7 linked regions of the Homo sapiens genome follow. The protein of the gene in region 3 interacts with the protein of the main gene of each other region in a biochemical or structural test. Each region holds a gene or a part of one and is shown on either strand. Other genes may lie near its edges. The genes, in order: LIMK2, ARHGAP21, FZD2, APBA2, LDB3, MAST2 and HTRA1.

Region 1 (3,500 bases), on a different chromosome or scaffold from region 3:
TCTAGAAGGAAAAGAGGTAAATTAGAGGCAGGTGGAACATGAGCAGGGCCATGGGGTGGGTGGAAGGGATCTAGGCTCAGCTACTTCCTGGTTGTATAACGTCAGGCAAACTCCTTCACCTAGTAGTGCCTCTGTGAGAAATGGGCATAATGTTACCGGTACCTCATATATTTGCTATAAAGATTAGGTAACACTATAACAAGGCTGGACTAGCTGGAGTTAATACTTAAAAACAATAGGAGAAAAACTTCCCTCCCATATCTTAGAGAAAATGCAGTTATCAAAGGTGGAATCGGAAACACCAGGCTCCTAGTGCCACGGAAATGGCTTGGCTGCCCCGGAAGCCTAAGACAGCTCAGGCTTACTCCTCCTCCTCCATGTTTATGCTTAAATGTCATGTCACCTCAGTGAGGCCTGCTCTGACGACCATATTTAAAATTGCAACTGGTACCCTGAACAATCGTCTTTACTTGTCTTGACTCTTTTTCCATAGCATCTGCCACATTCTAATATTCAATATAGTTTACTTATTGTATCTACTGTATGATACAGTAGATACCATGCTAGAATCTATGTTCTATGAGGGTAAGCACCTTTATTTTGTTCGCTGCTGTAACCCAAGTGTTTAGAACTGTACCTAGCACACAGTAGGCATTCAATACTGTATATATATATTTTTTAATAAATTAAAGATATTTAGAATGACAAGAGGTATTAGAAAACAAATACTGTGTAGCTTCACAATTTCTCCTCAAGCTTTTACACTGGTGTTACTGAAGGACTGCGGTCCTTGGCCTATAAAGGAACAAGGTATAGATTCTCCCACCAGAAAATTTCAACTCTAATGTGGACCGCTGGAAATCATTTTTTTTTTTTTTTTTGAGCTGCACCAAAGGCGTACCCTACCTCGCTTTATTAAAGGGCCCGTGCCGCAGAGTCAATATAAAAACACAAAGTCCCATCAGTTTAATAACAATAAAAAAATCCAAAAGTGGAAAACTGAGGGGGCAGGGGAAGAGACCCCTGGGCCAGGGGCACGAGGAGCCCTGCTCATGGAACCAGGCCTGGCCGCAGGGTCCCCCGGTATTGCTGTTGCTACGAGGTCGGGGGGTAGCGATTGTCCTATGGGAGCCACCGTTCGCCTGGGTCGGGGACCCTCACTTCTTCTGGGGTGTGCTCAGCTTCTGCATGGCCCGGATCTTGTCCAGCAGGCCAGAGATGAAGGCCTCTGTGGGTTTGTAACAGTCAACCAGCAGCTCCTTGACCCTGGAAGCCCAGGCATCGTCACTCTCCATGTCCAGGAGCTCATCCACGTCAATCTCTAGTTCTGAGATCTCCTCTTCCTGGCAGTCGTAGAGGCGCGTGAGCTGCTCCAGGATCCACTCCTCTAGGTTGAGGTGCTTCCGTAGCTCCTTGGGGTCATACTTGATGGTGACCTTCCCTTGGCGCCTCACTGGGCCCTCATCATCCGCGCAGCCCGGGCCCTCTCCTGCGGCCCCGGGGGGGGCTCTGAAAGTAGATGCGTGGTCCTTGGCCGCCACTGCCTGGCCTGGGGGCCGGGGCCGGGGCCGCCAACGCCGCGCCCCCCGCGGTGCCGCTGTCCGCCACGGCGGCCTCCGGGGCCACGTGCGCGCGTGGGGCCCCTCCTTGTGCCGCCGCCTCCGTGACGCCCGCCGGCTGGCTCAGGTTAGCTCGCCGGCTCCGCGGCGAGGGCGGCGGCGGGGGCGCCCGGGGGCAGCTGCAGCATGCGGAGCCCCCGGGCCTGGCCTGGTCGCGCCCCGCCCCCTCCCCGCCGATCCGCCCGCCCTTTGTCCCCTGCGGCCGCCGCCGGGGCTGCCGCCGCCGAAGCGCTTTCTCTATCCGGAAACCATTTTTAAATAAAGATTATGTCCCAACTGGTTATCCTGGGAGGGTGGAGTTGGGGGTGAGGAGAATGTTGAGGGATATATTGGTTAAGGGAGATTACAGAAGACGTATTTCCTGTGCTATAAACTTTGGTAATGTTTGAACTTGTTTTTAAAAGAAACATGATTTTTGATGGCAGGAAAAGAACCCCATTTTTGAGACAGAGTTTCACTCTTGTTGCCGAGGCTGGAGTGCAATGGCGTGATATCGGCTCACTGCAACCTCCGCCCCTGGGTTCAAGCAATTCTCCTGCCTCAGCCTCCCAAGTAGCTGGGGTTACAGGCACCTGCCACCATGCCTGGCTAAGTTTTGTATTTTTAGTAGAGATGGGGTTTCACCATGTTGGCCAGGCTGGTCTCGAACTCCAGACCTCAGGTGATCCACCAGCCTCAGCCTCCCAAAGTGCTGGGATTACAGGTGTGAGCCATCGCGCCCAGCCAGATTCTCGTTTTTTAACCACACACTTGAAAAGACCTAGGGTAACTTTGGTAATAATGAAATTATTACCTGAGAAGAATAAAGGTAATTTTGAAAATACTTCCTCAAAGGAGAAATTAGCTAAATGCATAAAACTGCTCACTGTAGTTAAATACCTATTGTAAAGAGAAACTGGAAAAACCTGAACATCTACATTACAATATGTTCAGACAGTCTCTCAATAGAATTTCATGTTGTCGACAAAAATGATAAACAGGAAGACTGGATAGTAAACACAAGGGAAATGCAGGGCAAAATACAGAACTATTTACTATAAAAAAAAGTATATGTGTAGATATGGACAGGGGAATATCGAAAGATGAATACACTTACTGTATTCAAATGGTTTGGGTGAATTTCCTTCTTTTAAACTTTCTTTTAATGGCTGTGTTTCTGTGTCCTATCCAGATTACTTGCTGCTATGTCTTTACCTCTCTCTTCTCCAACCTGTACATATGTGTTGTCAGATGGCTCAGGGGTTGACAGCCACATTCTTGACCTCAAGGCTTCTCTCACCCCTGTGCTTGCAGAGGGCTCAGGGGTGGCCTTAGACAGAGGCAAACGTCCCAGGACCCTGTGAGCTGGGAGAAAAAGGCAGGATACCAACCTGCTCTCAGGCTCCAGTCTGCAGCAGATGGCGGCCAGCGGGAAGAAGGCCGGGGGACAATCTGTGGGAACAAACTTCTCCCAGAAAAGCTTCACGTTGAGGCCAAAGTCCAGTGTTCGGGGAAGGCAGTCAGGATCTGCATACACCTGCCCAATGATCTGTAGGGTAAGAAGACAGCTGTTTACAAAGGACTACAGAGGCCACAGATACTTGGCAAGGGAAAGGGATGCTGGGATGTGGACAGGAAGAATGGCAGAAGAGGAGGTGGTAAAATAGGTTAGAGAGCTCTCCCCAATCCCCAATCATCTCTCCAAATCTTACTAATCCAGACCTGTATCCACTGAGAGCTGGGTTACTGAAGAGGACTAAGAAGGGGCTTCACTGCAGAAGCCAAGTGTTCCAAATCAGCATCTGCTCCTAGCTTCCACTCATCCTACCCTGCCTTGTCTGTGTCTCCTTGTGGCTGTGTGTGTGTGCCAGAGTTAAGGCTCTATGAGGTGCTGGATCTGAT
Region 2 (3,500 bases), on a different chromosome or scaffold from region 3:
CCTCCGCCTCCCAAGTAGCTGGGCTCACAGGCACCCCACCACGCCCAGCTAATATTTTTGTATTTTTTTTTGTAGAGATGGAGTTTCACTGTGTTGGCCAGGCTGGTCTTGAACTCCCAACCTCAAGTGATCTGACTGCCTCAGCCTCCCAAAGTGCTGGGATTACGGGCGCAAGCCACTGCACCCGGACTATTTTATTATTTTTTAAATTACCTCACATCGTTACTCAAATAGTGGAAGCAAAAATCTCTAAGCTTAAGTACCAATGGCATCACATTTTTGGGAAAAGCCAATATATGAAAAAGACATATAAAGATGATAAGTACATGATTTCTCTTTATAAAAGATGTAAGATGATAAAGTATATGATTTCTCTTTATAAACAGACTATTTGCTAAGACTCAGCCTGAATTAGTATTAAAGAAGGGCTGGGTGCTCATTGCATCGTCCTGTCATATCACCACTGGCACTGAGCCCAGAGCTCCCAAAGGGAGAAACTGGGTATAGGGAATGGTCACCTCTTCCCTTTGGGTAAATTTCAGGGAGCTAAGTTCCCCTGTATGGACAATGTAATCCAGCTATATCTTACCAAATCTAACACTTCTAAATCATCTTGATATGGCAGTGCCAATAAGGCTGTGACCATCAAATTCAATTTAACTTAGGGCTAACCCTCAACTGAGCACACACGCAGCCAATGTTGGGGTAAGATGGAGGAGGAGTCTTAAGAGATATGACAAAACTATGGAGAAAGAAAGTTAAGATGAAACCCTGAGTGTAGGTAACAGTCGTAGCATTTTTGTATTACTAGTAATGAGTGGTATAAATTAGAGAAGTGTAGGAAGTCAGGATTTTAGAACACATTGTAATATCTGCTATTCACCGTGAGATTACTCATGAACAGCTCACATTGTTGAGGTTTGTGTTTACTTATAAAAGAAGTTGAAATTTATTTTCAGGACTTACTATGCAGCTTTATAAAGTGGGGGGTGGGAACAGTAAACAAAATACTGTTAATGAGTAATATTCCAAATTTAAAAACAAAATGTATTCATTTTGTTTTGTATGCCTGTATGCCTCCTGCAACCTTAGTATATAGCAGGGGTCCTCAACTCCTGCGCTGCAGACTGGTACTGGTCCATGGCCGGTTAGGAGCTGGGCCGCACAGCAGAAGGTGAGCAGCGGGGGAAGGAGGGCGAAAGTCAAATAAGATAGGAACTAATTAGAGAGTACTTTTATTCTTAGTAAATAAAATTATTTATTTACATCAATCTATATGTATATAGAATTATACAGATCTTTATTTTCTATTTTAGCCAAAATCTTCTCTTTAATAACATAATTGTTTTATTTCTATACTTCATAACTAGGAAGAAATATTAACAGATATATCCAGCACATTTTTTTACTACTCCAATGTAATCTGATTATATTGTTGTTATTATGTAGGAAGAAAATATGATGCCACTGTTCTGATAAGATCGCATGGGCCTGTGAAACAGCCACAGGTTGTAAGATTTTTTTACATTTTAAAACTTCATAAAACAATCATTCGTCATCAGTTGCCTTCTATAAAATATCTATTCTAGATGATGTATAAGATTCCATCTACAACAGGAGTCTACTATTTGCTGAGCTTGGCCTTAGGGGTATAGATATGAATATGGGTACAATTTAGGTTGAGATTCCCCACAATGTTGACAACTTGAATATATCCGATTTATAAAAAAAAACATAAGCTGTGTGGAACTTTTTAAAAAAGCTTTTAGTGTCACCTATCCAATTAAGTGTTTTCTCAAGAAACATTTTTAAAGCTATCAATAGCTTTACAATTGATAGCTTTAAAAATGTTTCCGTAGAAAAGAAACAACAGTCCTCAACAGCTTTAAAAATGTTCCCGTAGAAAAGAAAAACTCAACTAGTACTCAAAGAGAAGCATATTATATTGTAAAATGATGGAGAACTCTTTTCATAAACCCATGGGACACCAGGGGGACTACAAGTATGGCCTTGGTTGGTGGCAAAAAGAGAAGGAAAAAAGCCCCTGCATCGCATGCCTCCAGGGGGCGCTCTTCACAGGCATTCCATATAAATGGCGTGCTCCCTGGAGCTGTGCTCTGGGACGAGGCTGAATGAGGCAAACCTAGAGACCCTGTCTCTTATCACTTACTATGCGATTTTAGAGATGTTATTTAGCCTCTCTATACCTTAAATTTCTCACTTATAAAATGAAGATAATATTAAGGACATAAGTCATCACCTGTTAGCAGATGATGTTTTAGAGCTGCACAGTCATGATGAGAACTGTATTGTTGTGCTATACATTTAACCAGCATTTCAAAATTGTCTTTCAGCCATTATCTCAACAAATACTTACTGAGTGAATTCTTTATGTGCCACGCAGTGTTCTAGGCATTAGGGACACAAAAGTGAACCAAAGATTTTAAATCTCTGCTCTCATGTAGTTTATGTTTTAGTTCTACTGAGAAACATGTAACAAAAAAACAAAACATGTCAAGTGGAAACAGTAATACGAAGATAAATAAAAAAGCTTAAGGGAAGAGAATGTCCGTTTCTGTGTCTGTGCGTGGGATACCTGTTTTAGATAGGTGAGTCACAAAGCCTGCTTGGATAAGATCTTTGAGCAGAGACCCAAATGTCATGAGGAAGACAGAGGCTTGTTAACTATCTGTGGAATGTATACCAGGGTTAGAAACCAGCTGTACCTGTCCCTGTAGCAACACACACCTGACAGCAAGGAGGCTGGTGAGGCTGCAGATGGGATGCACATGGAAGATTGTGATAGGAGATCACGAAGTAGGATCTCTCTGACACCATCAGAGAGGGAGTTGTGAGGCAGACCATGGAGGGCCTTTCAGATCACGGGAGGATTTTGCATGCTATTTTGGGTGAGATGAATGGGAAGGAAACAGAGGGTTCTGCACAGAGGAGTGGTGTGATCTAATTGACATTTTTAAAAACATCACACTGGCTGCTGTATGGAGAACAGATCTGGGGTGGGAGGGAGCAGACAGAAGACTCAACAGGACAGGTGCCGGCAACTGTGGCACACGCTTATAATTTAAGTAACTTCTCTAAATCTGTTCCAGGATTTATAGTATGGCAAACTAACTTGACAATGAAGAGGTCTTTTCTCTCAGTACACGTTAAATTTACAAAGAAATATGTTTTAGAAAGTAAAAGCACTGTTTAAATGAAAGGTTGGTAACTAATTATCAAAACTGTTCCACTTGGTTTTTCATTCACCTGAATCAACAATTAGGTATAATTTGCTTCGCTGATTTCCTTAATCTCAGGAATTTGTTTCATCAAAATAAAAATTTGAAATGGGTACTAGGTACATGAAGTTTTTGTTTTTTTTTTAAAAAAAGGAAAATTGGTACTAGAAATAACTTTTAAAGAGGTTTGTGAAAGCTCTGGTTGAAGCACAGCTTATGAGATTCACTAGAAACATTTTAAAATCACAGTGTAAGACTTCT
Region 3 (4,176 bases):
TTAAAATCCTAGAAGGGAAAAGAAAAATTCTAAAAGTAGCAGGAACCCTGCTGGCCACACCCCACCCCTTACCAGGTGAGAGATGTGGAGGGGATAATTCACCACAACCCCCCAGTTTCCTCCCGCGTCACACACGCCACCCCTCTCTGGTGTGGAACCACTTAAGATTTGGGTAAAACTCCCCTCTCGCCCTGGAGACGGGATCTGGAAGCTTTTAGGGGGCGGAGGTAGAGGTGGGGAGGCAGAAGGAAAATTCCCTCAAACGTTCGTCAGGCCTAAGAGAGTCGTCCCTTCACTCAAAATTGCCCGTCACCCCCCGCCCCCCACCATTAACTTTCGATTAAGACCTCCTCCTTAGGGCAACTAAACTTTACTTTGCACAATTAAGATTTGCCGCAGAAGAAGCGGGAGGGAGAAGCCGCAGCTCCGGGCCATTCTCCTTTCCCTCGCTCCCTCCAAGCCCCCCGCCCCAACCCTCCAGCTCCGGGCCTCCGAGTTCCTGAGTTTTCTCACTTTGAGGTGCCACCGAACACAAAGAACCATAATGGGCTCCTTTGTGTTGGCTACGGGGCAATTACGCCTCGGAGTCCTGGTCCCTTTAAGAGTCTCTTAAAGAGACAGGATCCCATTTTTCAGAGGGTTTTTTAAGGGTGTGTGGAGGGGGAGGGCGAGGGATCTACGTGTAAAGTGAAGTGAAACTTTCGCCTGGGCTCCAGAAAGAGCGGACAGAAAAGGTCTTTGTAAATTGTTAGTTTTTTTAAAGTCTGTTTTAATTTTTAAATTTGAGATTTTTCACTCGATTTGAAAAATTGGACTAGGAATAGGTGGGGTTCGAGGATCGGGGGCGGGGGCAAGGGTTTAAAGAGTCCCCACCCGGCAGAGCACCTCGGCCCGGGAAGAGGAGTGAGCCAGGGTCGAGTAGTGTCCCCCGATCTCGCCGCGGCAACTCCGGAGAAATCCCGGGCTGGGCAAACAGCCCTTAATATAATAATAGCTTGTCTCTTTAAAAAGCAAAAGGGGGGGAAAGTTTTGTTGGCATCTGGTTTCTGATCTCATTATGTTGTGGTCGACCAATCCAGCCCTCGGGCCTGGTCCTCGGGTTTAAATCTGATTGGCCGAGAGCACATTTTGGGTTGGTGCTTAGAGCTCGACGGGGCGGTTTCAAGGATCCCTTTTTTGGGGGGCTGAGGAGAGGGCGGGGCCGCCAGCGGGGGCCCCCTTGAAACCGACTAATTGGGATCGGAGAGGCCGAGGTGAGGGCTGGAGGAGGCACAAAGAAGTCGCTGGGTGCAGAAGGGAGGGGAGAGGGGGAGCTGAGAGGCGAGAGGAGGAGGAAGAGGAGAGAGGGCAGCAGCGCGCGGTGTCTCCGGCTGCTCAGTCCGACCGCGGCAAGCAAGCGGGCAGGCGCACCGCCCCCTCCCCCGCCCGGCCTCCCCAACTCTGCGGCCGCGAGTAAAGTTTGCAAAGAGGCGCGGGAGGCGGCAGCCGCAGCGAGGAGGCGGCGGGGAAGAAGCGCAGTCTCCGGGTTGGGGGCGGGGGCGGGGGGGGCGCCAAGGAGCCGGGTGGGGGGCGGCGGCCAGCATGCGGCCCCGCAGCGCCCTGCCCCGCCTGCTGCTGCCGCTGCTGCTGCTGCCCGCCGCCGGGCCGGCCCAGTTCCACGGGGAGAAGGGCATCTCCATCCCGGACCACGGCTTCTGCCAGCCCATCTCCATCCCGCTGTGCACGGACATCGCCTACAACCAGACCATCATGCCCAACCTTCTGGGCCACACGAACCAGGAGGACGCAGGCCTAGAGGTGCACCAGTTCTATCCGCTGGTGAAGGTGCAGTGCTCGCCCGAACTGCGCTTCTTCCTGTGCTCCATGTACGCACCCGTGTGCACCGTGCTGGAACAGGCCATCCCGCCGTGCCGCTCTATCTGTGAGCGCGCGCGCCAGGGCTGCGAAGCCCTCATGAACAAGTTCGGTTTTCAGTGGCCCGAGCGCCTGCGCTGCGAGCACTTCCCGCGCCACGGCGCCGAGCAGATCTGCGTCGGCCAGAACCACTCCGAGGACGGAGCTCCCGCGCTACTCACCACCGCGCCGCCGCCGGGACTGCAGCCGGGTGCCGGGGGCACCCCGGGTGGCCCGGGCGGCGGCGGCGCTCCCCCGCGCTACGCCACGCTGGAGCACCCCTTCCACTGCCCGCGCGTCCTCAAGGTGCCATCCTATCTCAGCTACAAGTTTCTGGGCGAGCGTGATTGTGCTGCGCCCTGCGAACCTGCGCGGCCCGATGGTTCCATGTTCTTCTCACAGGAGGAGACGCGTTTCGCGCGCCTCTGGATCCTCACCTGGTCGGTGCTGTGCTGCGCTTCCACCTTCTTCACTGTCACCACGTACTTGGTAGACATGCAGCGCTTCCGCTACCCAGAGCGGCCTATCATTTTTCTGTCGGGCTGCTACACCATGGTGTCGGTGGCCTACATCGCGGGCTTCGTGCTCCAGGAGCGCGTGGTGTGCAACGAGCGCTTCTCCGAGGACGGTTACCGCACGGTGGTGCAGGGCACCAAGAAGGAGGGCTGCACCATCCTCTTCATGATGCTCTACTTCTTCAGCATGGCCAGCTCCATCTGGTGGGTCATCCTGTCGCTCACCTGGTTCCTGGCAGCCGGCATGAAGTGGGGCCACGAGGCCATCGAGGCCAACTCTCAGTACTTCCACCTGGCCGCCTGGGCCGTGCCGGCCGTCAAGACCATCACCATCCTGGCCATGGGCCAGATCGACGGCGACCTGCTGAGCGGCGTGTGCTTCGTAGGCCTCAACAGCCTGGACCCGCTGCGGGGCTTCGTGCTAGCGCCGCTCTTCGTGTACCTGTTCATCGGCACGTCCTTCCTCCTGGCCGGCTTCGTGTCGCTCTTCCGCATCCGCACCATCATGAAGCACGACGGCACCAAGACCGAAAAGCTGGAGCGGCTCATGGTGCGCATCGGCGTCTTCTCCGTGCTCTACACAGTGCCCGCCACCATCGTCATCGCTTGCTACTTCTACGAGCAGGCCTTCCGCGAGCACTGGGAGCGCTCGTGGGTGAGCCAGCACTGCAAGAGCCTGGCCATCCCGTGCCCGGCGCACTACACGCCGCGCATGTCGCCCGACTTCACGGTCTACATGATCAAATACCTCATGACGCTCATCGTGGGCATCACGTCGGGCTTCTGGATCTGGTCGGGCAAGACGCTGCACTCGTGGAGGAAGTTCTACACTCGCCTCACCAACAGCCGACACGGTGAGACCACCGTGTGAGGGACGCCCCCAGGCCGGAACCGCGCGGCGCTTTCCTCCGCCCGGGGTGGGGCCCCTACAGACTCCGTATTTTATTTTTTTAAATAAAAAACGATCGAAACCATTTCACTTTTAGGTTGCTTTTTAAAAGAGAACTCTCTGCCCAACACCCCCACAAGGTTTGTAATTAAAACTGTAAATAGTCTTTGTAAATTTAATTATATATATTTTCTATTTAAAAGAAAAAAGGAGAAAAAAAAACAGGGGTGTGGGCGCCAGGACTGAAGAATGAGGTGTGTGTGTGTTGGGGAGTGTAGTTGGGGGGAGGGTTCTCTTTCTTAAGTGCCCTTCAAAACCCGCCCCACTTTTGGAGTTTTTTGGTGATATGGCAGGGCTGGGCCTGATGGGAGAGGCACCCAGCCTGAGCGCTGTTTTTGTTGGCTTTGAGTCGTTAGGAGTTTGTTCCATTCAACTAATATAAAAGCCAAATTTGTGAGCCTCCTCTCTGACGCTGGGCCTGTGGAAGCCGTTGGATATTTTTGAACAGGACTTGGATTCGTTTTGTTTCCTTCCCCCTTTTCTTTCCCTACTCATTTGTCCTGTCTTCTTCACTCACTCTTGGAAAAGTCCCAACAGAGATGAAGACGTGGAAAAAAAAATCGGGGTCGGGGTGTGCTGGTGGGGAGAGGGCAGAGATCCGGTGAGGAATGGCTTCCACCCCCTGGCCCATTCCCCTGCAGGCTGGAAGATCTTTCTCCTGTCTGGCTTCTCTTCTTTTCAATTCGCTGCACCAAGTGCTTCCAGTGGCCCAAAAATGCTTTTTGAAGTGTGTTTTGAAACAGCCCCCACCAACATACACCCCACCAGGAGTACTGATCCTGCCTCCCTTCATGTCTAGGGGAAGCATTCGCCTTTGAG
Region 4 (3,500 bases), on a different chromosome or scaffold from region 3:
CTCATTTTCTTCGTGAGAGCAAACAACCTGATCTTCTGACCATTTGTCTTGGTCACCTGGGCTACCCAAACTGAGTGAGAAGTCAGGAATGAGCCGGTAGGTTCCTGGGGAGAGGCGTGTGTCCTCGTGAGTTGCCGGTGCCTCCCTTGACTGCTTTTCCCGGAGCTCTGTGTGCCCTCGTTCTCCTTGGTGTGGATGCGTGTTGTTCTGATGATGAGTTAGCGGGGGTGGGGATGGCGCACTGTTTGAACAGATGTGCCCTCACATGGCTGCGGGAGGACGTGGTGGGAGGTGCTGTGGTGAAGTGGCCCCACACATGGCTGGGCTTTGTGGGGTTTTGACTCTGTCCTTCCCAATGTTCCTCCCCACAGTGGCTGCCTCCGGGTGATGATGGCTGTGTGAACGACTGCCATGGCCCACCGGAAGCTTGAGAGCGTGGGGAGCGGCATGTTGGACCATAGGGTGAGACCAGGTCCTGTCCCTCACAGCCAGGAGCCCGAGAGCGAGGACATGGAGCTGCCCTTGGAGGGCTATGTGCCCGAGGGCCTGGAGCTGGCTGCCCTGCGGCCAGAGAGCCCCGCGCCAGAGGAACAGGAGTGCCACAACCACAGCCCCGATGGGGACTCCAGCTCTGACTACGTGAACAACACCTCTGAGGAGGAGGACTATGACGAGGGCCTCCCTGAGGAGGAGGAGGGCATCACCTACTACATCCGCTACTGCCCTGAGGACGACAGCTACCTAGAGGGCATGGACTGCAACGGGGAGGAGTACCTGGCCCACAGTGCACACCCTGTGGACACTGATGAGTGCCAGGAGGCGGTGGAGGAGTGGACGGACTCGGCGGGCCCGCACCCCCACGGCCACGAGGCTGAAGGCAGCCAGGACTACCCAGACGGCCAACTGCCCATTCCGGAGGATGAGCCCTCCGTCCTTGAGGCCCATGACCAGGAAGAAGATGGTCACTACTGTGCCAGCAAAGAGGGCTACCAGGACTACTACCCCGAGGAGGCCAACGGGAACACCGGCGCCTCCCCCTACCGCCTGAGGCGTGGGGATGGGGACCTGGAGGACCAGGAGGAGGACATTGACCAGATCGTGGCAGAGATCAAGATGAGTCTGAGCATGACCAGCATCACCAGCGCCAGTGAGGCCAGCCCCGAGCATGGGCCTGAGCCAGGGCCTGAGGACTCTGTAGAGGCCTGCCCACCCATCAAGGCCAGCTGCAGCCCCAGCAGGCACGAGGCGAGGCCCAAGTCGCTGAACCTCCTTCCCGAGGCCAAGCACCCCGGAGACCCCCAGAGAGGCTTCAAGCCCAAGACCAGGACCCCAGAAGAGAGGCTGAAGTGGCCCCACGAGCAGGTAGGACCCTGGCTGTCCTGGGGAAGGGAGCAGAGGGGCCCGAGAGCAAGGGACCTCAGGGTACAGGCCTTGCAGATGCTGAAGCGAGGCGGTGGGGGGTGCTGGGTGCCTCACAGTTCTAATGGTGGCTGAGCTCTTCATTGGTCCAGTTGGGAGACATGTTGCGTGGATGCTCCGGCCACTCTTAAGCTCACCGCTCAGACTCAGGACTAAAGCCGGTTGAGGGCTGAGTGGCAACTCGTGTCTCGCAGAAGACACCCCTCCTCCCACCCTAGAAGAGAGGTTCGATTTCTTGCCCACTGCCCTGGTCTGCTCATGGTGGGGCAGTATGTGTGGGAGAGCCCCTCAATCCTCAGGGGTGTACTCAGACCAGCAGGGCAGTGGCAAAGACGTGGGGGTGCTGGTGCTCACCCACTGCTGCGGCCAGTGTTGGGTGGCCTGGTGGCTGGGGTCGGGGCCAGAGTGCATTTCACAATGGACGGGTCTCTGAAAGCCCGGGGGCCTTGGCCTGATGGGCAATCAGCTGTGAATACCTATTTGGAAAAGGATTTTTTGAAGGTTTGACAAAACCTCGGGGAAGAAACGCATGCTAATGAGGGCAGTGGATGTCAGCATAACTGTATTTTAATTATAGCAAAGTCAGCGTGCATTCTAATAAACACATTTGAAAAGCCACCTTCCAAAAAAAGCCTCACTGTGAGTATATAAAGAAGATGTGATTATTGGACTTGTGTGAAGGAACTTCTATTTGGCCAATTATGTGGACTTCTGTCATATTTTTTTACAGCCTTAACTGTTAAATATTTTTTTCCGAGAAGAGTTCATGAATTTGAGTGTGTGTGTGTGTGTGTGTGTGTGTGTGTGTGTGTGTGTGTGTACTGAGAGCTTGGGTTTGGAATGGAAATCATTGGATTTTCAGCACTTATATTTTAATTGACTCCTGGATTTTCAGCACTTGTATTTTAATGTCTTGTATTCTCTCTAAAGAACGTTAAGTGTCAGTTGACTTCACTTTGGGGGTGTTCCTGTCATTCACAGCAATTCCGTGTTTACAGGGGGCTGTGGGATGCATAGGAGCTCCCATGGTACTAGTGGGTGTTGGGAGAGTTCACCCCTAAGGCCAGGAGGCTCTGGACCCTGGGTCTGGGCTTTAGGCCAAAGCAAAGTGTTTCTTTGGTCTTTAGCAGGGCCTGGGCTTGTCCCACAACAGTGGTGAAGGCACCTCAGGGATTGACGTGGGCTGTGCAGAGCGTGTGACATGCTGCGTCTTATTGTGACAAATGGCATCGCTAGCCAAGTTCTTGTCAAAGAAGATTATCTTTAGAGCGTGGTGGGGAGTAAGCAAGACCTGATATTTTCTGGTTTTGTGCTTCATGCTAACCAGATGGTAATTTGGGTAAAAACACAGAGATCTTGCGATTGGAGAGCTGGGAGGTAAATGAGTGGGAATGAATGGATGGATGGGTGATAGTAGCTGTTTAAAAGGGCAGGTGGAGGTAGGGGAAGTCCCCAGCCATTGTGGAGGATCAAGAGGATGTCTGTTCTTCCCAGAAGAGGCATTGAATGAAAAAGTATGTCACTTCTCCCCCTAAGGAGAATGTGTCCTTGAAGGACATGCTCTTGTCTGAGACACTGGAAAAGTTCATTTAAACTGGTTAATGATTGTATAGCTTTTGTTTTGTTTTGTTTTTCCCTCCCTCCCTCCTTTCTGTCCTTTCCTCCTTTCCTCCCTTCCTCCCTTCCTCCCTCCCTCCCTCCCTCCCTCCCTCCCTCCCTCCTTCTCTCCCTCCCTCCCTCCCTCCTCTCTCTCTCTCTCTCTCTCTCTCTCTTTCTTTCTTTCTTTCCTATCAGTTCACAAATTAATTCTGTCAAGGGGAACACCTGCTAGTTCCAGAGTTCCAGGCTGACAAGTACCCTGGTGCCAGGGGCCCTGACTACTCTTTCTGAAGACTCTACCAGGCCCGCTGCACGTGGGCAGGGTCTCCACATTCTTAGATTTGAGTACCCCATTCCAGATGAGGACCTCTTTGAAACCTGACCAGAAAGAGCCGTAGAATTCATCTTGAAAGCAAGATTTTTTATGAAGGATGTGCACTGGGAGATTTGGTGCTGCCTTGCTTGAAATAACAACCTGCTTT
Region 5 (3,500 bases), on a different chromosome or scaffold from region 3:
CTGGGATTACAGGCGTGAGCCACCGCGCCCAGCCAATCTTAATCTTTTTTAGCAGAGAATTGCACTTCACAAAGAAAGGAAAGAAAATGTTGCACAGAACCCCCTTATATATAACAGAGGGATGAAGCTGCTCTGAAGTTGTGCTAGATCACCTCTCCCTGCTCTCTGTCCCTGGTGGTGTTCCTGGAATCACTTCTTCCCCCAGCATTTTGATATTCTCTGCAAAGTTGTTAGGGAGGGTGACAATACCTCAAATTTGGGCTGTACACATTTACAAAATCCATTCACTATGTCACCCCAGCAGGTCCCCAGCATGCCCTGTGGGGCAGGCAGGGTGTCAGGCATTCCACCACCACTGAATAGACCTCAGTCTCAGGTTATCTGACTTCAGGATGTTCCATTTCCCTTCCCTCCTCTCCCCCAACCCTAGGCGCTACCAGTCTAACTGGGCTGGGCTTCCCTAGGTGAGCAGCAGGCCATGAGACAGGCTGACAGTACATCTGACCCTGACACCCAGGTTGCCCCCATCCTTGCCATCCTCACTCACATTTAGTGACACACTATGCCAGGTACTAGGCTACGCTCTTTATATTTCTTACCTTCCCTTAATCCTCATAATAACCTTGTGAGATACTAAGAATCAGTATTGCCAGTTTTAGATGAAGAAATTGAGGCCCAGAGAGGTTAAGGAACTTGCCCAAGGACACAAAACCAGGAGGTAGTAGAGCTGGATCCTGCAGCCAGGGCTCTTGGCTATGCTATCAAGACTCCACAGCAGGGGGTCTCCTTCATGTTGAAAATGACTCCTCCCTGACATGTTGCACTGAGATTTTCTAGAAATTGGACTCATATTCTTTACAGAGGCAGCTTGGGATGATAGAATGAATGGATTTGGAGATGTATTCCCACTTACTAGCTCTGTCTGAGCCTCAGTGACCTCAAGTGTAAAGAGGGAATAATGTGAAGACCGATTCAGATGACAGATGCTATGTGCCTCGTTACCCCTAAAGGGGAGGAAGATTCCTTATGGAGAAGGTATTATCTTTTTTTTTTTTTTTTTTTTGAGATGGAGTCTTGCTCTGTTGCCCAGGCTGGAGTGCAGTGGTACGATCTCGGGTCACTGCAAGCTCCGCCTCCTGGGTTCACGCCATTCTCCTGCCTCAGCCTCCTGAGTAGCTGGGACTACAGGCACCCGCCACCACACCCAGCTAATTTTTTGTATTTTTTTAGTAGAGATGGGGTTTCACCACATTAGCCAGGATGGTCTCGATCTCCTGACCTCATGATCTGCCCACCTCAGCCTCCCAAAGTGCTGGGATTACAGGCGTGAGCCACCATGCCCAACCGGTATTATCTTTTGAAGGCCTCACTGGCAGGATGGCTCCAGGGCAGGGCTGTGGAGGGTTTTATCTCTTCTTCCTTCAACAACATGGATGGATCCTATCTACCTGGTCCCTACTCACCCCCAGCACAGGGATTTCCAGCTCACCCAGCTCTGAAGGGTGGGTCACCTGGGAGTGGAAGGTGCAGAGTGGGAGCCACAGGCTGCCCCAGGCGGTCCAGGGGAACCAGGTGGGAAAGAGAGACTGGAGATGGGGCCAGGGTCTTAGGCCCTAAGGAAAACCTTCCTCTCCAGGTTGAGGCTGGAGTATGGGGTGGGGGGCAGAGGCGGGGTGTGGGTGCAGGGACTGCCTCAATGCAGTCCATCCTGCCCATACTGAGCTCAGGAATGGGGAGGGAGGCTGTGCTGACATGCTTCCTAGGGTTGGGGGAATGAGGCCTCTTTGCTGAGGAGCAGACTGAAATGTGGTGAGGCTTCTGGAACCTCACTCACTGGAAGAGGAAGCCAGCTGGACCTTGCCTGCAGGGTGCAGCTGGGTCTGCCCTGGCTAGGTGTTGAGGGCCCAGGCGGGAGAGGGCTGTGGGTAAGCAGTGGCAATGCTTTTTCTGTGCTGTGAGCCCAAAACGTTTTTCTGCTCTCAGGGAGCTGGAGGAGGGGGTGATAGAAGTGAGGTGGTGCATTCTCTTCCCTGTGCTCTGACTGCCTGGGCAATCTTTAGACAGTCACTCAGACACACTCTCAGCTTCCACCAAAGCGATGTGGGAGTACAGGGGTCCCCCAAGGCAGCCACGGGCCAAGTGAGCAGCTACTTCTAGGCTGTGTCACCCTAGAGTCTCTGCCCAGCACCCTCTGAATGACTCCTTCAAGATCCCCCACCCTAATCAAACCAAGACGGAATTGCCCCCCAATACAAATCAAGCCAAGCTGTTTTTCAAGAAAGTAATTGTAGCTAAACCTGAAACCTGAACCTGAAAACCCAGCTACCAGGTCACCTGTTTTGTCCTGAGGGCTGACCTAGGTCCAGGTTCAGCAAACTTATGCCAAGGGAGGTATTTCAGATGTCAAATCACTGGTCAGAGTGCAACTGAAAGCATCTTGCAGTCAAAGGCGAGGTGACCCACTCCCACCTCTCCCCGCCCAGGTACCCCCACCCCCACTCTGCGTCTTATGCAGGCCTTGGGCAGTCAAGGCCTGGCGGAGCCCCACCCTGCACAGCTGCAAATATTTATAGCCATGTCCCTTTTCCAGCCCTGTCGAGGGTTCTGCTGTGCTTGCTCCCTAGCTCTGTGAACACCCTGCTGAGAATTCAAATCTGGGCCATCAAGAAGTTCAGGAACAAGTCTCCCAAAAAAACTGAAATTGTACTGCTCTAATGTTAAAGTCACCTTTTGCATTTCTCTGGCTAGGAGTGAGGGGAACTGGGAAGAATGAATTCCTGACACACCTTTCTTTGGGTTTTTTTTGGCTTTTGCAGTGCCTGCATCTACCTACAGCCCGTCCCCAGGGGCCAATTACAGTCCCACTCCCTACACCCCCTCCCCTGCCCCTGCCTACACCCCCTCCCCTGCCCCTGCCTACACCCCCTCACCTGTCCCCACCTACACTCCATCCCCAGCACCAGCCTATACCCCCTCACCTGCCCCCAACTATAACCCTGCACCCTCGGTGGCCTACAGCGGGGGCCCTGCGGAGCCTGCCAGCCGTCCACCCTGGGTGACAGATGATAGCTTCTCCCAGAAGTTTGCCCCGGGCAAGAGCACCACCTCCATCAGCAAGCAGACCCTGCCCCGGGGAGGCCCAGCCTACACCCCAGCGGGTCCTCAGGTGCCACCACTTGCCAGGGGGACCGTCCAGAGGGCTGAGCGATTCCCAGCCAGCAGCCGGACTCCACTCTGCGGTCACTGCAACAATGTCATCCGGTATGGTCCAGCTGTGCCCCTGCACTGGGGCACTGGAAGGGCGTGTGTGTGGGGTGCTTGCCCACAGTCTGAGCCCTGGTTGGGAGAGATGGGGGTAGGAGGCAGGTGTAGGGAGAAAGCCTCGGGTCCTTCTGGCTTGCCATCTGGTCTTACCTCTCTGAGCCTTAGCTGCCATACCTGTGTGACACCCACTCTCCCAGGGAGCTGGGAGGAATGGCATGAGGTATGTGGGTGAAGCT
Region 6 (3,006 bases), on a different chromosome or scaffold from region 3:
GGGCTCCAATGGGAGCCATTTCCTCATCTGTAAAAACAATAATATAGGCCTGTGGTTCAGATGTGTTGGTGCAGGGACAAAAAGCTGGAGCTGTGGTATAGCCATGCCAGAAGGGAAGGATTGGGGGAGGGGAGGGGCAAGAATATGGCTCCAGCTTAGCCTAGGCCTCATGCTCTGCTCCCCAGAGTGGAAACAAGGTGGCCATTTCAACAACTCCCCTGGAGAACACATCCATTAAAGTGGGGCCAGCTCGGAAGGGCAGCTACAAGGCCAAGATGGCCCGAAGGAGCAAGAGGAGCCGCGGCAAGGATGGGCAAGAAAGGTGAGCCAGGCGCAGTGAAGAGGGTTTTCTCTGAGCCACATGAGTGCTGGTACGTGGTGGGTGCCTTGGCCCTGGGGGTCCAGTGTGTGCTGTGCTCACTGCACCGACTCAGCCTTTGACCCTTATCCCCGCAGCAGAAAAAGGAGCTCCCTGTTCCGCAAGATCACCAAGCAAGCATCCCTGCTCCACACCAGCCGCAGCCTTTCTTCCCTTAACCGCTCCTTGTCATCAGGGGAGAGTGGGCCAGGCTCTCCCACACACAGCCACAGCCTTTCCCCCCGATCTCCCACTCAAGGCTACCGGGTGACCCCCGATGCTGTGCATTCAGGTACGAAGGGCTCCCTGCAGATCAGTGACAACCCCTGGGAAATAGGAAAGTTCCTAGGCCCTGTGTGCTTCTGACAGATCCCACTCTGAGTCTCTCATTTAGCCCACCCCCTGAAAGATCCTGTAGTCTTGGGGAGGAATTAATTGATGGGGAAGGGGGTAGCTTGGTTTCTGGGACATAACAGGGCTAAGCCCTGTCTTGCCCTTGAGTCACTTCTAACAGCTAACACTGCTCTGCTTTTGTCTGTCTGTCTGTCTGTCTCTGTACAAAGTGGGAGGGAATTCATCACAGAGCAGCTCCCCCAGCTCCAGCGTGCCCAGTTCCCCAGCCGGCTCTGGGCACACACGGCCCAGCTCCCTCCACGGTCTGGCACCCAAGCTCCAACGCCAGTACCGCTCTCCACGGCGCAAGTCAGCAGGCAGCATCCCACTGTCACCACTGGCCCACACCCCTTCTCCCCCACCCCCAACAGCTTCACCTCAGCGGTCCCCATCGCCCCTGTCTGGCCATGTAGCCCAGGCCTTTCCCACAAAGCTTCACTTGTCACCTCCCCTGGGCAGGCAACTCTCACGGCCCAAGAGTGCGGAGCCACCCCGTTCACCACTACTCAAGAGGGTGCAGTCGGCTGAGAAACTGGCAGCAGCACTTGCCGCCTCTGAGAAGAAGCTAGCCACTTCTCGCAAGCACAGCCTTGACCTGCCCCACTCTGAACTAAAGAAGGAACTGCCGCCCAGGGAAGTGAGCCCTCTGGAGGTAGTTGGAGCCAGGAGTGTGCTGTCTGGCAAGGGGGCCCTGCCAGGGAAGGGGGTGCTGCAGCCTGCTCCCTCACGGGCCCTAGGCACCCTCCGGCAGGACCGAGCCGAACGACGGGAGTCGCTGCAGAAGCAAGAAGCCATTCGTGAGGTGGACTCCTCAGAGGACGACACCGAGGAAGGGCCTGAGAACAGCCAGGGTGCACAGGAGCTGAGCTTGGCACCTCACCCAGAAGTGAGCCAGAGTGTGGCCCCTAAAGGAGCAGGAGAGAGTGGGGAAGAGGATCCTTTCCCGTCCAGAGACCCTAGGAGCCTGGGCCCAATGGTCCCAAGCCTATTGACAGGGATCACACTGGGGCCTCCCAGAATGGAAAGTCCCAGTGGTCCCCACAGGAGGCTCGGGAGCCCACAAGCCATTGAGGAGGCTGCCAGCTCCTCCTCAGCAGGCCCCAACCTAGGTCAGTCTGGAGCCACAGACCCCATCCCTCCTGAAGGTTGCTGGAAGGCCCAGCACCTCCACACCCAGGCACTAACAGCACTTTCTCCCAGCACTTCGGGACTCACCCCCACCAGCAGTTGCTCTCCTCCCAGCTCCACCTCTGGGAAGCTGAGCATGTGGTCCTGGAAATCCCTTATTGAGGGCCCAGACAGGGCATCCCCAAGCAGAAAGGCAACCATGGCAGGTGGGCTAGCCAACCTCCAGGATTTGGAAAACACAACTCCAGCCCAGCCTAAGAACCTGTCTCCCAGGGAGCAGGGGAAGACACAGCCACCTAGTGCCCCCAGACTGGCCCATCCATCTTATGAGGATCCCAGCCAGGGCTGGCTATGGGAGTCTGAGTGTGCACAAGCAGTGAAAGAGGATCCAGCCCTGAGCATCACCCAAGTGCCTGATGCCTCAGGTGACAGAAGGCAGGACGTTCCATGCCGAGGCTGCCCCCTCACCCAGAAGTCTGAGCCCAGCCTCAGGAGGGGCCAAGAACCAGGGGGCCATCAAAAGCATCGGGATTTGGCATTGGTTCCAGATGAGCTTTTAAAGCAAACATAGCAGTTGTTTGCCATTTCTTGCACTCAGACCTGTGTAATATATGCTCCTGGAAACCATCTTTATGTCTTTTGCTTGCTTGTTTTCCTTCGGTCAACCCACATGTAACTAGGTCCTGTGTTGCTGCTGGGAATATAGTGGTGAATAAAACAGTTTCCACCACCAGGGGAGGGCCACCTAACCCAGCTTGACTTCCCAAAGGCTTTGACATTTGAGCTCAAACATGAAGAATAGATGATAGGTAGTAGTTTGCTGGGTGTGGAAGAGTGGAGGTTGGCATAAGAAAGGCTGTCCAGGCAACGTTTAGCACATGCAGTATACCTGGCATAGTCAAGGAACCAAAGATAATTCAAAGTAGAAACGGGTCTGGCAAGTGAGGCAAGGGCCATGTCTAATGGTCTTCCAGGAGATTTGACTTCGTGAAGGTGATGGGGAACCAGAAAATACCATGTAGCAACTAAAATTCCTTCATAGATAAGGGCACTAAGACTTTGATGCCCATGGTAATACAGTAGCTTGGGTAGAACGGGGGTTAGAACGTAGGTCTCCCTTGGACTCC
Region 7 (3,500 bases), on a different chromosome or scaffold from region 3:
TGTGAGCTCAGTTCCCCACCGGGCCTGGTGTTTCCAAATAGCCCGTCACTGTCCCTGCTTGGTTTTCCATGATATCTGTGCCTTTACCTATTTGGTTAAATTAAACCAACTCAGCAACGCCAGCCATTGTGGTTTCAGGGCAAGCTGCCTGTCCTGCTGCTTGGCCGCTCCTCAGAGCTGCGGCCGGGAGAGTTCGTGGTCGCCATCGGAAGCCCGTTTTCCCTTCAAAACACAGTCACCACCGGGATCGTGAGCACCACCCAGCGAGGCGGCAAAGAGCTGGGGCTCCGCAACTCAGACATGGACTACATCCAGACCGACGCCATCATCAACGTGAGCCTCTGTCCCTCTGCGGGTGGGGATTGGGGCAGAGTTTTGCCAGGGGGAGAGGAGTCAGCATAGGTCTTAGCCCCTGACTTTGTTGTAGTCTGCGTGAAGGGATGGAACTAGACCAAGCCATGTGGATTCTAGTGCCAGCAGCATGGCAGGGGTCACATGGCGGGGACGGTGACACCGGAGCAGGTGGACAGCCAGCCTCCTCCCAGGAGGAAGAAGTTGTATTGGGTGCTTTAGGGTGATTGCAGTTGGCTTCTGGGCTTCAGAGAGAAAATCTCCCTGTTTACGGCACCTCTAAAACTTTCTGAAAATTGTTAAGGTCATTTTTTTCCGGCAAAATATTAGGTTAATGGGAATGAATCTCAGAGAAGAATCGTGCCCCCCACTCTAGGCACCGTGCTCAGGAAACGACCAGGCAGGGACATAGATTGAACCATGTTATGACACGATTTGTAACCTTTTCATTTCTGTTTAATTGCAGTATGGAAACTCGGGAGGCCCGTTAGTAAACCTGGTAAGGTCTTTTAAACCTATGTTAGGTCATTTGTTTTTATCTATGTATACGCTGTTTTTTGTTTGTTTGTTTGTTGTTTGTTTGTTTTTGAGGCAGGGGGTCTTTTCAAACATAAGGTTGCCAAAGTGTATTATAAATTCCTTTAAAATGGCTCTGTAAATGTACTGCGTGCTTGCAAATGACCCTACGGATCTTTTCTGGAAAGAGTAAGGCAGGCCGGAGGTGAGGGTTGGAAATGTTATGCCAGAGAACACACTTGTGTCTCAGAGTTACAGGTAAACACCGTGAAATTCAGGGCCAATGCAGGAGTAAGGTGAAGGTCACTAAAAATGCTGGCCAGTCACCGAAAGCACCTCCTCCAAATTAAATCTCCTGGGCTGCTGAAGGAGCTGGCTGGGCTCATACACATTTTCTCTTGGCCAGGAATCCTCCCTTAAGGCCTGGCTGGAATGAGGAGGAGTTACCCACCCACAAAGATATCACTTAAGTCTTCCCTTAAATACTTGAGCAGAAAAAGTGAAGCCTTAGAACACAGACCAGCAGAGCTAGAGGGCAGCTCTGGGGCCATTTATAGAGGGCAGCTCTGGGGCCATTTATAGAGGGCAGCTCTGGGGCCATTTATAGGGGCTGTCTTTAGCAAGGCCCAGTGTGATGGCACCTCCTAGATGGTGCCTTGGCATCAGGTACTGACATCTCAGCACTCCTGGGAAGTGTGCACTTGGCAGCTTTCTCTTCCCAGCAGAGGGGCAGCTGTGCTCCCAGCTCTGTCCTCTGCCTCCCCGCGCAGCACTTGGGGATGGAGTGGAGATGGCTTTGCTGGTAATGAAGCATGACAGCCCTAAGCTCTAGGGTTGTTTCCCCCTGAAGTCAGCAGAGTCATCTTAAGATCATTAGACATGGGAGAAGCAGGAAGGTGTGGGCAGCCACCTAAAGGAGTTTGAGCCTTTGGAAACGTATTCCTTGTGAAACAGGAGCAAATCATATCGTGCATTTTGAAACTATCTGTGCTTACCGTGAGGTGAGCACCCAGTGCCGACCTGGAGTATGTGCGATTCTTCCACAGCTGCGCGTGGCTCGCGCTGCCTGGGTGTCCTGATGCCTCTCTCCCTGCTGCCACGGGGATCCCCTCCTTGCATCTCCCCACTTCGATCTCTGAAATAGCTCAGGGACTTCTTTCAGGCATATTCTCTCTGGGTGTGTACCTGCCGGTAAAGCTTCACGATTCAGTAAGCCGTGTCCTTCTTGCTTTTCAGGACGGTGAAGTGATTGGAATTAACACTTTGAAAGTGACAGCTGGAATCTCCTTTGCAATCCCATCTGATAAGATTAAAAAGTTCCTCACGGAGTCCCATGACCGACAGGCCAAAGGTAGGCAAGGCCCACACAGCCCTGGGGACTCCGGAGATGGGGCCTGAAGCTCAGCTGCCCTTTGGGACTTGGGGAAGGGAAAAGCGGCAGCCCCTAGGACTAGCCAAGCCGTCTCTGATCCAGAAGTGAACGGGAATGCACATTACTAAATCCCTCGCAGAAGGTCACAGACATTTCACCATTTTTGTCCTCTGATCATGGCAATGTCACTTGAGTCAGTCTAATATGTACCAGGCATGATCCTAGGTGACTTGTGTACATTATTTCACTTTCTTTATGTATGTCACTTAATTCTTTTGCCCTATCAGTTAGGAATTACTAGTCCCATTTTGCTGATGAGAAAACGGTTCAGGGAGATCATTCTGCAAACGTTTATTGCCCCATCTGCTCTAAGTCAAGCAGGGAGCTTGGCAGTGGACAGCTCAACTGGGGCCTGGGGCTCAACAGGGGCCTTTGCCGGTGTGACTTTTATGTTCTGTTGGGGGATGGGAAGGCTGACAGTAAATAATCAAACACATAAGATACTATTAGTGCTCCCAAGAAAACGGATCAGGGTGGCCGTCAAGGGAGCGACTGGAGGGGCAGCTGGTGGAGATGGTGTGGCCAGGAAATGCCTTCCAAGCTGAGGTCTGAGTGAGGAGGAACCAGCGGGCAGGGATGTGGGGGGAACACTCCAGAAGGAAAGACAGAGGACTCAGCATAGTTGAGTGAGCACAAGGCCCCTGAAGTGGCCTGAGGGCCGGAGCACAGTGACAGCATGGAGTTCCCCGGGGTGGAAAGAGGCCAAGGCCGGGCGAGCAGGCTCACAGCAGGCCGTGGTGAGGGACCTGGGTTGCATCCTAACGACATTTAAGAACAGGGAAGTTTATGATCTGATTGATGTCACTGAAAGGACACTCTGATGGCTGCGGGGAGTCTGCTGGAGGGGTTGCTGGAAGTTGGGGACCGGTTAAGGGGCTCTCCCAGCCATCTGGATGAGACATGCTGGGGTCTCAGACAAGGGTGGTGGCAGTGGAGGTGGGACAGAGGGGTCACATTCCAGATATATATGGGGGGTAGAGCAAGCTTGGGGAAGGGCCAGCTGTCAGGATGAGGCCATGAGGAATTAAGGGTCATGCCCAGGTACCTGACCATTAATTGAAACAATGGGACTTTCCCAAGGTCCCCCAGAGGGGAGGGGTCCAGACCAGGATTTGAGCCGCAACCTCAGTGTACCCTTCTGTGGCCCTTCCTGCAACCTGGGGGATTGGGCCCCCGGCCCCTGGTGTCCCCAGCACCCCCA

The links.
Region 1: the proteins of FZD2 (region 3) and LIMK2 interact in a test that uses a peptide from one of them, tested with the Homo sapiens proteins (one large-scale study listed by IntAct).
Region 2: the proteins of FZD2 (region 3) and ARHGAP21 interact in a test that uses a peptide from one of them, tested with the Homo sapiens proteins (one large-scale study listed by IntAct).
Region 4: the proteins of FZD2 (region 3) and APBA2 interact in a test that uses a peptide from one of them, tested with the Homo sapiens proteins (one large-scale study listed by IntAct).
Region 5: the proteins of FZD2 (region 3) and LDB3 interact in a test that uses a peptide from one of them, tested with the Homo sapiens proteins (one large-scale study listed by IntAct).
Region 6: the proteins of FZD2 (region 3) and MAST2 interact in a test that uses a peptide from one of them, tested with the Homo sapiens proteins (one large-scale study listed by IntAct).
Region 7: the proteins of FZD2 (region 3) and HTRA1 interact in a test that uses a peptide from one of them, tested with the Homo sapiens proteins (one large-scale study listed by IntAct).

The regions. Positions count from the first base shown.
Region 1 is NC_000022.11:31,274,798-31,278,297, reverse strand, and holds part of LIMK2 (LIM domain kinase 2), read right to left. Parts: intron 3,148-3,500; coding exon 2,990-3,147; intron 1,862-2,989; exon of another isoform or gene 1,510-1,861; coding exon of another isoform or gene 1,158-1,509; exon of another isoform or gene 660-1,157; intron 2-659; coding exon 1-1. UniProt on the Homo sapiens protein: Serine/threonine-protein kinase that plays an essential role in the regulation of actin filament dynamics. Acts downstream of several Rho family GTPase signal transduction pathways.
Region 2 is NC_000010.11:24,615,888-24,619,387, forward strand, and holds part of ARHGAP21 (rho GTPase-activating protein 21), read right to left. Parts: intron 1-3,500. UniProt on the Homo sapiens protein: Functions as a GTPase-activating protein (GAP) for RHOA and CDC42. Downstream partner of ARF1 which may control Golgi apparatus structure and function. Also required for CTNNA1 recruitment to adherens junctions.
Region 3 is NC_000017.11:44,556,108-44,560,283, forward strand, and holds the start of FZD2 (frizzled-2 precursor), read left to right. Parts: upstream 1-1,376; 5' UTR 1,377-1,581; coding exon 1,582-3,279; 3' UTR 3,280-4,176. UniProt on the Homo sapiens protein: Receptor for Wnt proteins.
Region 4 is NC_000015.10:29,053,474-29,056,973, forward strand, and holds part of APBA2 (amyloid-beta A4 precursor protein-binding family A member 2), read left to right. Parts: intron 1-371; 5' UTR 372-411; coding exon 412-1,362; intron 1,363-3,500. UniProt on the Homo sapiens protein: Putative function in synaptic vesicle exocytosis by binding to STXBP1, an essential component of the synaptic vesicle exocytotic machinery. May modulate processing of the amyloid-beta precursor protein (APP) and hence formation of APP-beta.
Region 5 is NC_000010.11:86,713,511-86,717,010, forward strand, and holds part of LDB3 (LIM domain-binding protein 3), read left to right. Parts: intron 1-2,816; coding exon 2,817-3,261; intron 3,262-3,500. UniProt on the Homo sapiens protein: May function as an adapter in striated muscle to couple protein kinase C-mediated signaling via its LIM domains to the cytoskeleton.
Region 6 is NC_000001.11:46,033,617-46,036,622, forward strand, and holds the end of MAST2 (microtubule-associated serine/threonine-protein kinase 2), read left to right. Parts: intron 1-185; coding exon 186-322; intron 323-456; coding exon 457-650; intron 651-921; coding exon 922-2,450; 3' UTR 2,451-2,506; downstream 2,507-3,006. UniProt on the Homo sapiens protein: Appears to link the dystrophin/utrophin network with microtubule filaments via the syntrophins. Phosphorylation of DMD or UTRN may modulate their affinities for associated proteins. Functions in a multi-protein complex in spermatid maturation.
Region 7 is NC_000010.11:122,506,553-122,510,052, forward strand, and holds part of HTRA1 (serine protease HTRA1 precursor), read left to right. Parts: intron 1-138; coding exon 139-333; intron 334-817; coding exon 818-850; intron 851-2,103; coding exon 2,104-2,218; intron 2,219-3,500. UniProt on the Homo sapiens protein: Serine protease with a variety of targets, including extracellular matrix proteins such as fibronectin. HTRA1-generated fibronectin fragments further induce synovial cells to up-regulate MMP1 and MMP3 production.